Regions from separate parts of the Homo sapiens genome. Here region 2 is linked to region 1. The links come from fine-mapping of genetic effects on gene expression. A gene starts in region 1. The other region holds a variant in brackets. All regions are shown on one strand. Distances are from middle to middle.

Region 1 (5,000 bases):
CCAGGCACAATTTCCTTGTCCCCAAAACATAAGTTCATATACATTGATTGGTTTGAGCAACAATCAAGATAACATGTGCTCTGGTGCTTAGGAAGTATTTGAATCAAAGACAGACTTTCTAAAATTACCTTTCATTGGCTGGGTGCGGTGGCTCACACCTGTAATCTCAGCACTTTGGAGGCCAAGGCGGTGGATCACTTGAGGTTAGGCGTTCAAGACCAGGCCAACGTGGTGAAACCCCATATCCACTAAAAATACAAAAATTAGCCAGGTATAGTGCTGCGTGCCTGTAATCCCAGCTACTCAGGAGGCTGAGGCAGGAGAATTGCTTGAACCCTGGGAGATGGAGGTTGCAATGAGCTGAGATCACGCCGCTGCACTCCAGCCTGGGCAACAGAGCAAGACTCCATCTCAAAAAAACTATTTTATTGAAACATAGAGAAAAGAACACAAATTATCAGTGTATAGGTCAACGCATTACCACAAAGTGAACGCACTTGAGTAACCATAAACCAGGTAAAAAAATACAGCCTAAGAATCCCCTATTGTGTTCCCTTGCCTCTTTAGAAGTAAGTTTTTTATGGTGTTGACAGTACAGTTTCTCCATTTTTCCTTCCAGAACTTATTCTTGGGACCATGTTGCTCTCATTCTCACTGTTACTTTTCCCCTCTTCTCTTTTTCCTTCTTAGAACAAAACAAAATACTATTGACTAGCAGTGGTCATTCTCTTCACTCTAACCTGAAAGTCAATAAATTGAGTAGAAAGGACTGATGGGGGCCAAAAGGGCTGAACCTCCACCACATTTGTGCTGTAAGAAAACATGACATGGTTGCCTAGGCTCCACAGGTTTTTTAAACTCTCATCTCACACAAACTCCATGATACAGGCAAGATTCTTGTAATTTCATAGACAAGGAAACAGAGGCTCAGCAGCTTGATCAGCACTTCTGAAACCAACCCTTTGCCAGGTGTAGAGTCTTCGTCTAGGCCAGGACCTGTCACTTCAGTGTATAAAGGAAGTTCTCATCAAGGTGGTTGATGGCCGCAGTCCCCTTTAAGAAGTAGAAAGTGTGGTGCGGCTTCCCAGAAAAAACACAGAGGAACACAAAAAGTGCATATCACTTTGGAGGTTTCCCACGGCCGGCGAACCACTGGTACCTATGGACAGCCCCCAGCTGCTGCAGTGACTGAGGGATAAAACAGCCATCCATCTCTGCGCGCAAGCCCATTACCAAAGATAGTATTGCCAATGGTAGTATTGTTAGTGCAGTTCAACTGCAGGACAGACTGAACGTCCTTAGAAGCAGCCTGTGTGTGTGTGTGTGTGTGTGTGTGTGTGTGTGTGTGTGTGTGTGTGTGCACCGCAGGACGCCCTCCTTTCCCGCGGAGCTGTCACAAAGGACTGTACTTGGCATCCTCACTCCTCACTTCCCAGGATCACGGACTCCACAAAGTTCTGGTGCCCGTTTCTCCGGGACCACTGCCAGCTGAGCATACAGCTCCGGCCAGGAGGGCGCCAGCGGCCCCGGGAGCCAGGGAGACCAAGGAACACTCGCATTCATTTGTACACCCCGGCTCCCCCCAAACGCGCACGGCCCTTGGCGGGCTTGGCCAGGGCACGTGGTGGGCGGCGGGGGCACAGCGGCGCCTGGGGACGCGCGTGTGTGCGCACCGAGAGGGCGCCTGGCCGACGGCGCCCACCTCTCTCGTGGCTTTGGTGGCTCCAGGCCTGGTAGGGCCGGGGCCGCGGCTCGGGCAGTGCCCTCCCTACTCCTGGCCGGGCCGGGAGCAGCGGGAGCAGGCGCAGCGCCCCTACCGCCCGCTTTTCCGCCTCCATCTCCTCCGCCTCCTCCTCCTCCTTCCCCCAACCACCCGCGCAGTCACAACCGGTTCAGACTGGCCGGGGTGCCCCGCAAAGAGAGACAAGGGAGAAAAAGACAGCAGGGAAAACCCCGGGGAGGAGAAGGCGAAAGAGAAGGTGGAGCTCAGAGAAGGGGGCCGGCTCCCCAGCTCCATGTGGCCGCCGCCGCTGCGGGTCTGTGGGGGCAGAGGGCGGCGGCTCCCGGGGCAGCGCGTAGCGGGACCGATTGCCTAATACTCCGGCAGGGGCCGGGGCCGCAGCTGGCTCGGATAAATAGCCGCCCGGCTGGCCCGGAGCTGCAGGGGAGAGCGGCGGCCGCGATCCCCACCACACCACCAGCCCGGCCGCACGGGGCACTGAGCCGGGTGCTGAGCACCGGAGGCCCCGCCGAGGCCGGGACTCAGGTAAAGGGCTGGAGCTTGCGGGGAGGGTTCCAAAGGTGGGCAGCAGCCCCTGCTGCCCAGCGTCCTAGAGGCAAGAAGTAACTCCGACTCGGAGCAGTAGGAGGGGGCGGTGGAGCAGCATGGAACCGGGCTTTTGTCTGGGGTGTGTGCCGGGGGCTTCGAGTGTCCACGGTGCGCCCGCCCCTCGCCGCCCCCTTTTTGATGGGGTGCTTCTACAAAGTGGGCAAGTTTTCCCGGGAATCCGAAGGCGGCATTTTGTACGGAGTTGAAAGAGAGGGAGGGGGTCCTGGGGGTGGTACGGTGGCCCCCCAGAGAGCTGCCTCTGGACTCCAGAGAGCTTCCAGGGTTGCTGGTGGAAGAGCAGGGAGAGGTGCATGTGATGCAGGTGGGCCTCCATTTCCCAGAGGACCGAAAGGCCTCCAACTGCCTTGGTCCGGAGCGCGAGCAACCAGGTGCCCCCGGAGGGTTGGGAATGGGGCGCCGCGGGTACTCCTGACCTACGTGGAGCGCAGCGCGCAGGGCCGGCGGATTCTGCACGTTGGCGCCAGGTTCAGCACCACCCGGCAGCCCTGGGCGAGCGCGGGAGCCCAGCCTTCGCCACCGCCGCAGGAGGCACCGGCACCGCGCCCACCTGGACCCTCAGCCAGCACTTGGGAGGACTTGGTGCTTAATGCCCCATCTTTGGTTCGCCCTAGGTAACCTGCTCTGGCTTCAGCAGCGCCCAGAGGCTTTCCAGAGAGCTGATAACCACGAACAAACTTGGCTGTCAAAAGCAAATCAATGCTTTACCTTGTTTTCTGGGTGCCTAGTCTATCCAACACAAACTATCCCCGAAGTTTAGTCAGGATTTACGCTAAATATATTACTTATATAGTAAGTTATTCGATATAACATTTTTGGTCAATTTTCTAGGCTACAGTTTTGATGTGTTTTTTAAAAATCTTGAATTAACTGAATAACAGTTCATATTGAAGGTGGATTCTCCCATTCCCTGCACCCAGGATTTTCCGTTGTTCCATCAAATTCTGTAAATCGGTATGCCCTAACAGTTTCTTATATTTGAGTTGGCTTCAGCTTCGAGAAATTCTTCAGGCAGGTTTAGGCAGAGGGCTGAGGAAGCTAGAGAAGATTCCGAAGAGAAAGGATGATTATTTGTTGCATGATTATAGCTTCTTTTAAAACTTCTAATAGGAAAACCCTTCCACTTTCCTGGACCAAATGCAGAGTAAAGTCATTTTCTATTATCTGTTGCAATAATTAATAATAAATATGTAAATGCAGAAAACATGGTTAGTACCCATATCATTGCCAGAAACCAGTCCCGCTCTCCCTCCACCATCAAAAAAAAGTCCTCGCAAGTAGGAATTAGATAAAATAATTTAACCTGCAATTTTGCAACAACTCAGACTTTCAGCACCACCGACCCCCTAATAACATCCCTACTGGTTTCTTCCATTTTTTGTGTAGGCAAGTGGAATAACAGGTATCCTTCATATCCATAGGAAGAGCATTGGGAGGAGCCAAAGATATGGGGAGGTAGATCAAGACATTAGGAAATCTTTTCTGGCTTCTGACTTTGAGTCTGAAAAGGTGGTGTGAATTGGTTGGTGTCTGAATCTTTATCAGGACACATTATGGTGGTCTGGGGTGGATCTGGCCATGCAACTCAAGCTAGAGGATGACAACTACAGAGATGTGGTCACATTTTCAAGTTTTACTTCCTTACCTCAATCTTTCAAACCCCTAATTAATTAGGTAATAAAAATTGTATATATTTATGATGCACACAACACAGTATTTTGAAACAGTAATACATTGTAGAATGGCCCAACCAACATAATTAACCTATATGTATTACGTCACATTTTTATCTTTTGTTTTTTTTTTTTTTTTGGTGTGGTGAGAACACTTCAAATCTACCATCTTAACAATTTTCAAAATTGTGACTATAGTGACTATAGTCACTATGTTGCACAATAGATCTCTTAAACTTATTGCTCCTATCTAACTGAAATTTTGTATCCTTTGACAAACATCTCTTCACCCCAACCCTACCTACTGGTAACCAGGGTTCTACTCTATTCTCTGAGTTCAACAATTTTAGATTCAAGTCTCCCTTCCCTTCCCTTCCCCTCCCTTCCCCTCCCTTCCCTTCCCTTCCCTTCCCTTCCCTTCCCTTCCCTTCCCTTCCCTTCCCTTCCCTCCTCTCCCCTCCCCTCCTCTGCCCTCCCCTCTTTTCCTTCCCTCTTTTCTTCTCTCTCTTCTCTCTCTCTCTTTCTTCTCACTGCAGCCTCGACTTCACCAGGCTCAGGTGATCCTCGCACCTCAGCCTCCCGAGTAGCTGGGACTACAAGCGTGTGCCACCACACCCAGGTAATTTCTGTGTTTTTGTAGAGATGGGGTTTCGCCATGGTTCCCAAGCTGGATTACAGGCATGAGCCACTGTGCCCAGCTGACTTCCCTTTTTTTTTTTTTTTTTGAGATGGAGTTTCACTCTTTTTTTTGAGATGGAGTTTTGCTGTTGTCACCCAGGCTGGAGTGCAGTGGCTCAATCTTGGCTTACTGCAACCTCTGCCTCCCGGGTTCAAGCAGTTCTTCTGCCTCAGCCTCCCGAGTAGCTGGCATTACAGGTGCGTGCCACCATGCCTGGCTAATTTTTTGTATCTTTAGTAGAGATGGGGTTTCACCATGTTGGCCAGGCTGGTCTCGAACTTCTGACCTCAGGTGATCAACC
Region 2 (5,522 bases), 32 kb after region 1:
GATAATCCCTGGGATGAATAAAGCTGGGTAGGAAGGATCCTACCCTCCTGGGTTATACATTGTGAATGAGCTCATCCTCATTACATATATTCCTAGGGTCTCTGAGCTAGGGATGCCAATATAGAAAACACCATCCATGTTTCTAAAAGGTTTGTAGTCTCAGGGAAGAGACAGAAAAAAAAGGTAACTAATAATTTGAGAATTCACAAATATCAAGGAGAATAGCAATGGCAAAACAATCTCTGAGGTTTTAGAGGGATAGCCTTTGAGGAAGCTATTGAGATGGGCCAGATAGGAAGATGGACTTTCATAGGCAGATAGACAGGGAGAGGGAAGTCCATGCAAATTACCTTTATGCAGAGGCCTGGATTTGGTACTGCAGAGGCTGTGTTCTCATGGAGTAAATTTGGCTGGAAAGGAGGGATTGTGTTGGGAGGTGTGACGGTCAGTTTTATGTTTCAACTTGGCTAGGTTACATTCTCCAGTTGTTCAAACACCAATCTAGGTGTTGCTGGGAAGTTATTTTGTAGATGTGAATAAAGTGCATAGTCACTTAACTTTAAATAAGGTAGCTTATCCTAGAAAATCTAGATGGATTTGGCTCAATTGTTGAAAGGCTTTAAGAGCAGAAATGAGCTTTCCCAAAAGAAGAAATTCTGCTTGTAATTGTAGCTGCAGCCTATCCCTGAGAGTTCCAACATGCCCTTCCTAATGGCCTCCTCTGCAAATTTTTGACTTGGTTAGCTAGGCAGGTATTGTCTGGCTGCCTAGTATGGTTGTTTCAAACGTGTAAGCCAATTCCTTGCAACAAATGTCTTAATATATGCTTCCTACTGGTTTTGTTTTTCTGGTTGAAACTTGACTGATATGGGAAGAATGGAAGGTAACTGAACTAGAGAGCTATCATGGCCTTGCATTGTTTTAAGATGAGCTAACACACCCTTTGGCTAGATATTGTTCTCCAAATTCAAGGAAACGGTGGTTCTGTTTCTCACACTACCCAAGTGCTGAAACAGCAGGAAATAGCACGGAGATCTAGTCTGCAGTTTTGTACTCAAAGCAGATTTGAGAGTCCTTGCCCTCTCCCTTTTGTCTTCACTTCCTCCAAAGGTGTTCAAACTCATAATACGAGTCAGTAAACGCATCACCATGTTAATATAATGAGTCAGTATGGCCAGGCCCACTTGCTGAATGAGTTATGAGTGCTGGCAGAGCTGGGTTTGGGCATTACCCCTAAGCACTGTTAACTCCTTCAAGGAGTACTGAATTCCTGCTTCTCTCAAGGATTCTGTTGCATTGGCAGGTTCCCAGTGTGCTAGGCAGTTTTAAGATTGGTGGCCGGGCGCGGTGGCTCACGCCTGTAATCCCAGCACTTTGGGAGGCCGAGGCGGGTGGATCATGAGGTCAGGAGATCGAGACCATCCTGGCTAACAAGGTGAAAACCCGTCTCTACTAAAAATACAAAAAATTAGCCGGGCGCGGTGGCGGGCGCCTGTAGTCCCAGCTACTCGGGAGGCTGAGGCAGGAGAATGGCGTGAACCCGGGAAGCGGAGCTTGCAGTGAGCCGAGATTGCGCCACTGCAGTCCGCAGTCCGGCCTGGGCGACAGAGCGAGACTCCGTCTCAAAAAAAAGAAAAAGAAAAAGAAAAAAAAAAGATTGGTAGGAATAAAGACCAGGTTTTGGTTAAGCTTTCTGCCATCTCTAAATACCACCAAACCCACTAAAATGAAAGGCAGTCAGGGTATATGAGATCAACAATTTGAGTGGGTGTGGCTCCTTAGTGCCTTTTTCTTTCTCAAGGAGATGAACTTGAGATTTACAGTCTTTGCTGGAGCAAGGATTGAGGAACCTGCAATTTGGAGGAGCTCACACCTTGGGCTCCCTGAATTTTAGATGGAAAGGTAGGACCTTCACAGGCCCAACTGATCCACTCTGTTAGGAAATCCTTGCTGCATGGCAGGTCCATAACCTGGTTACTACTATATTCTGTTTCTCACTGTAGCATCAGCCAACTTATGTATTCACTGCAGCAGACCTGGCCATCCTTCTACTCCTGGGACTCTCTGAAACTTTTTAGGAAAAAGAAGTGTGACACAGGAAGGGGAACATCACACTCTGGGGACTGTTGTGGGGTGGGGGGAGGGGGGAGGGATAGCATTGGGAGATATACCTAATGCTAGAGGGCGAGTTAGTGGGTGCAGCGCACCAGCATGGCACATGTATACATATGTAACTAACCTGCACATTGTGCACATGTACCCTAAAACTTAAAGTATAATAATAATAAATTAAAAAAATAATAATAAAAGTAGCTAAACTTAAAAAAAAAAGTGCGTGGAGGTTGAGTTTATTTCCTAAAGGGAATAATTTCATTCCCAAAACTATCCTATAATAAATTAAAAACTGAAAAATCACGTTATGTTTCTGTTCCCTCCATTTAGAATAGATGTTCATCCCTTTTGTTGACATAACCATACTTCGCAGCCTAGTTCAAGGCTTAGTTCTGTGGCCTTGGTTTTTCTTCCTCTTATGAAATCCCCAAACAAGCCGTCTGAACCTTTCTTTTGGTGCTTTTGGCCTTGGGTTTTATTTTAAACCTTGATGCGAGTTTGTTTTGCCTCTTGTCTGAGTCCTGGATTGTGTTTGATTTCTCTGTGTCCTTTTCTAACATGATATGAGATTCTAGTACTGTGCTGTCCAGTAGGGTGGGCACATGTGGCTACTGGGCACCTGAAATGTGGCTTATTCCAGTTTAGATGAGCTATAGGTATAATAAATACACACTGCGCTGGGTGTAGTGGCTCATGCCTATAATACTTAGAGCTTTGGGAGGCTGAGGCAGGAGGATCACTTGAGACCAGGAGTTTAAGACCAG[T/C]CTGGGCAACATAATGAGACCCTGTCTCTATAATTTTTTTTTTTTTAATTAGCCAGGAGTGGTGGTAACTTGGGAGGCTGAGGCAATAGTGGCTTCTAAACACCAATACTGACAACAATAATATTGGCTCTTGAACACTAATATGCAGGCAGTGGTAAGTTCGGGAAAAACTTTCACCAAAGGCAAAATGAATATAAAGGCAATGATAGAGGAAATGTATGAGTGTGTGTGTGTGTGTGAAGTTCCTATTATCTTCTTACTGTCTTGCATTTTATTCCAAAATTACATCCTTCTCACTATTAGCTTATTTAAACATTTCTTCTTCTCTAATTAAGCAGTAGTAATAATAGATGGTTATTACTTTTTTTTTTTTTTTTTTTGAGACAAGAGTTTTGCTCATTGCCCAGGCTGGAGCACAGTGGCGTGATCCCAGCTCACTGCAACCTCCACCTTCCCGGTTCATGCAATTCTCCTGCCTCAGCCTACCGAGTAGCTGGGATTACAGGCATGTGTCATCACACCTGGCTAATTTTTGTATTTTTAGTAGAGGCAGGGTTTCGCCATGTTGGCCAACCTGGTCTTGAACTCCTGACCTCAGGTGTTCCACCTGCCTTGGCCTCACAAAGTGCTGGGATTACAGGCTTGAGCCACCATGCCTGGCCAGTTATTATATTTTTAAAGTATCTTGTGAAAATAAAACATTAGGAACCCTTGCCCCTTTTTCCCCCCCTTTTTTCCCTAAAATTGTTCAGGTTCAAAGGTGTGGAATCACTGGTTCATGTCACAGGTAAACTAACTTTTGTTCCAAAGTTCCCTTCTGCAGAGTTTTCACTTTGCATTGTAAGAAATCTCCTGAAAGTAGCCCTTTGATTTAATCTGTCTCTTGAAACTCATCCAGTGCTGAGGAATAATAGATGGTTTATCATCTTGAGGCCTTGCACAGTTACTACAAAGAGCTAAATACATAAATATATCACATTTTGCAGATGTGACTTGATGGTCACTTTGATACATTTTGTCTTGTTATTGCTGAAATATGAGGCTATTGTGTTTTAAATCTATGTGAATAGAATCTATAAATAAACCCAGGTTCTAAGGATAAGGGTAAAATAATTTTGCTCTAAACTATTGAACACCAAGTGATTATAAATTTTATGTTTTCATCTAACATAAGTTCATAAAGCTATGTTATCTATAAGACATTAACAAAAGTACCATTACCAGTGGTGAATCCATACAGGTCTGCATCAGACTTGATCCTTGCTTCCTTGGAGGAAAGAATTCCGCCAGGGGGCAGAAGTGGGTTTAAAGCAGAGAAAGAGACCAAGGCAAGTTTTAGAGCCGGAGTGAGAGTTTATTAAAAAATTTTAGAGCAGGAGTGAAAGGAAGTATTTACACTTGGAAGAGGGCCATGTGGGCAACTTGAGAGATTCAGGTGCCCCATTCAGTCCTTGACTTGGGGTTTTACAAGTTGGCATGGTTCTGGGGTTTTTCCTTCTCTCTTGATTCTTTCCTTATGGTTGGCTGTTGCTCAACTGCTGCATAGGCAGTGTTGGTCATTTGGGAGGGTGACCACGTGCATAGTGTGTTTACTGAGGCTGTGCTCATGCTCCGTAGGGGCAGTTTTCCTTTACCAGTCAAATGCCCCCAGAGGAAGGTCGTACATCCACCATTTTGCCTCTTAGTGAGCATGCCAGAGTCCACTTGTCCAACTCCTGAGATCTTATTGGGAAGCTGCTGATCACCAGCTCCAGGTGTTTTCTGTCTACTGGGAGACTCTCTTCCCCTGGTGTTGGCTGTGGCCAATTATCATTTCAGAAAAACAGTTTAATAAACATCTGACCATCACCTGATGGTTACTGGAAATTCCTGGGTGAGGCGAGGGCTCTCCTGCCCTGCTCATGTCTGCCTAACTACCTACTCTAACAGTACCTTGATGTTCTTTACTAGTAATTTGATTTCTAGGAAAAAATTAAGATCCCAATTGAACTATTTCTCAATCAGGGAGAATGCTGGTCTGACTTTGGCCTTAGACCTGTCATTGGCTAGCTATGGACTCTTGGTCAAATCACATGATCTTTCTGAGTTCCAGTTTCACCATTTTTAAATTGAGGTGTTTAGACCGTTTTCAACTTCCAAAATTTCAGCTCTAAAATTTTTTGTCTTTAATCTCTGACCTAATGATATATTTCTCTAAATCAGCAGCAGATGGCAATGTGAAAGTAGAGAATTTTAAACCCTGTTTCCATTTGCTGTTTCCACTGTAAGAGAATTTCTGTTCATTTTTTCCTAATGCTTAAATTGTTCTTCAAAAAAAATCATTTGTTAGGCAAAAAAAGTGACTTAAGAATTTATCACATAGTTGATAACAATGCTGTATATTTCATACAGCAGTGGCTTTGGTTGTACATGTTATGAAAATTATTACTCCTCCATCTTGCCCCCACACTCCCAGGCTCTGAGGCTTCCTCATGGAATTAGCATGCATTAAAGAGCATAAAGTCCTATTTTGAGGATGAAACTTGAAACTTTTCAAGTATGCCAGGAATAATCTCTGTGTGTTTCAATTCCAATGTGTTGTAAAATTTGTGAACACTGAAACTCAATGTCAATGTAGTTTGGTAACAACAGAGAAGGGTCATGCCT

The links. PIP is the estimated chance that this variant, and not a neighbour inherited with it, causes the effect. A credible set is the group of variants that fine-mapping cannot tell apart.
Region 2: its variant is the best candidate, but not a certain one, in a credible set for the expression of SLC16A9 in T cells (TOPMed, PIP 0.52).

The regions. Positions count from the first base shown.
Region 1 is chr10:59,706,745-59,711,744 of GRCh38, reverse strand. It overlaps SLC16A9 (solute carrier family 16 member 9), which reads left to right and starts at 1,895. Exons shown (of 6, transcript NM_194298.3): 1 at 1,895-2,266. RefSeq lists silencers at 1,553-1,822, 2,053-2,122, 2,263-2,322 and an enhancer at 2,553-2,752.
Region 2 is chr10:59,674,657-59,680,178 of GRCh38, reverse strand. All of the region lies in intron 2 of SLC16A9 (solute carrier family 16 member 9), which reads left to right. Among named protein-coding and RNA genes, the nearest start is that of SLC16A9, 32 kb to the left of the region's middle. The variant T/C (reference allele first, on the strand shown) is at 2,877.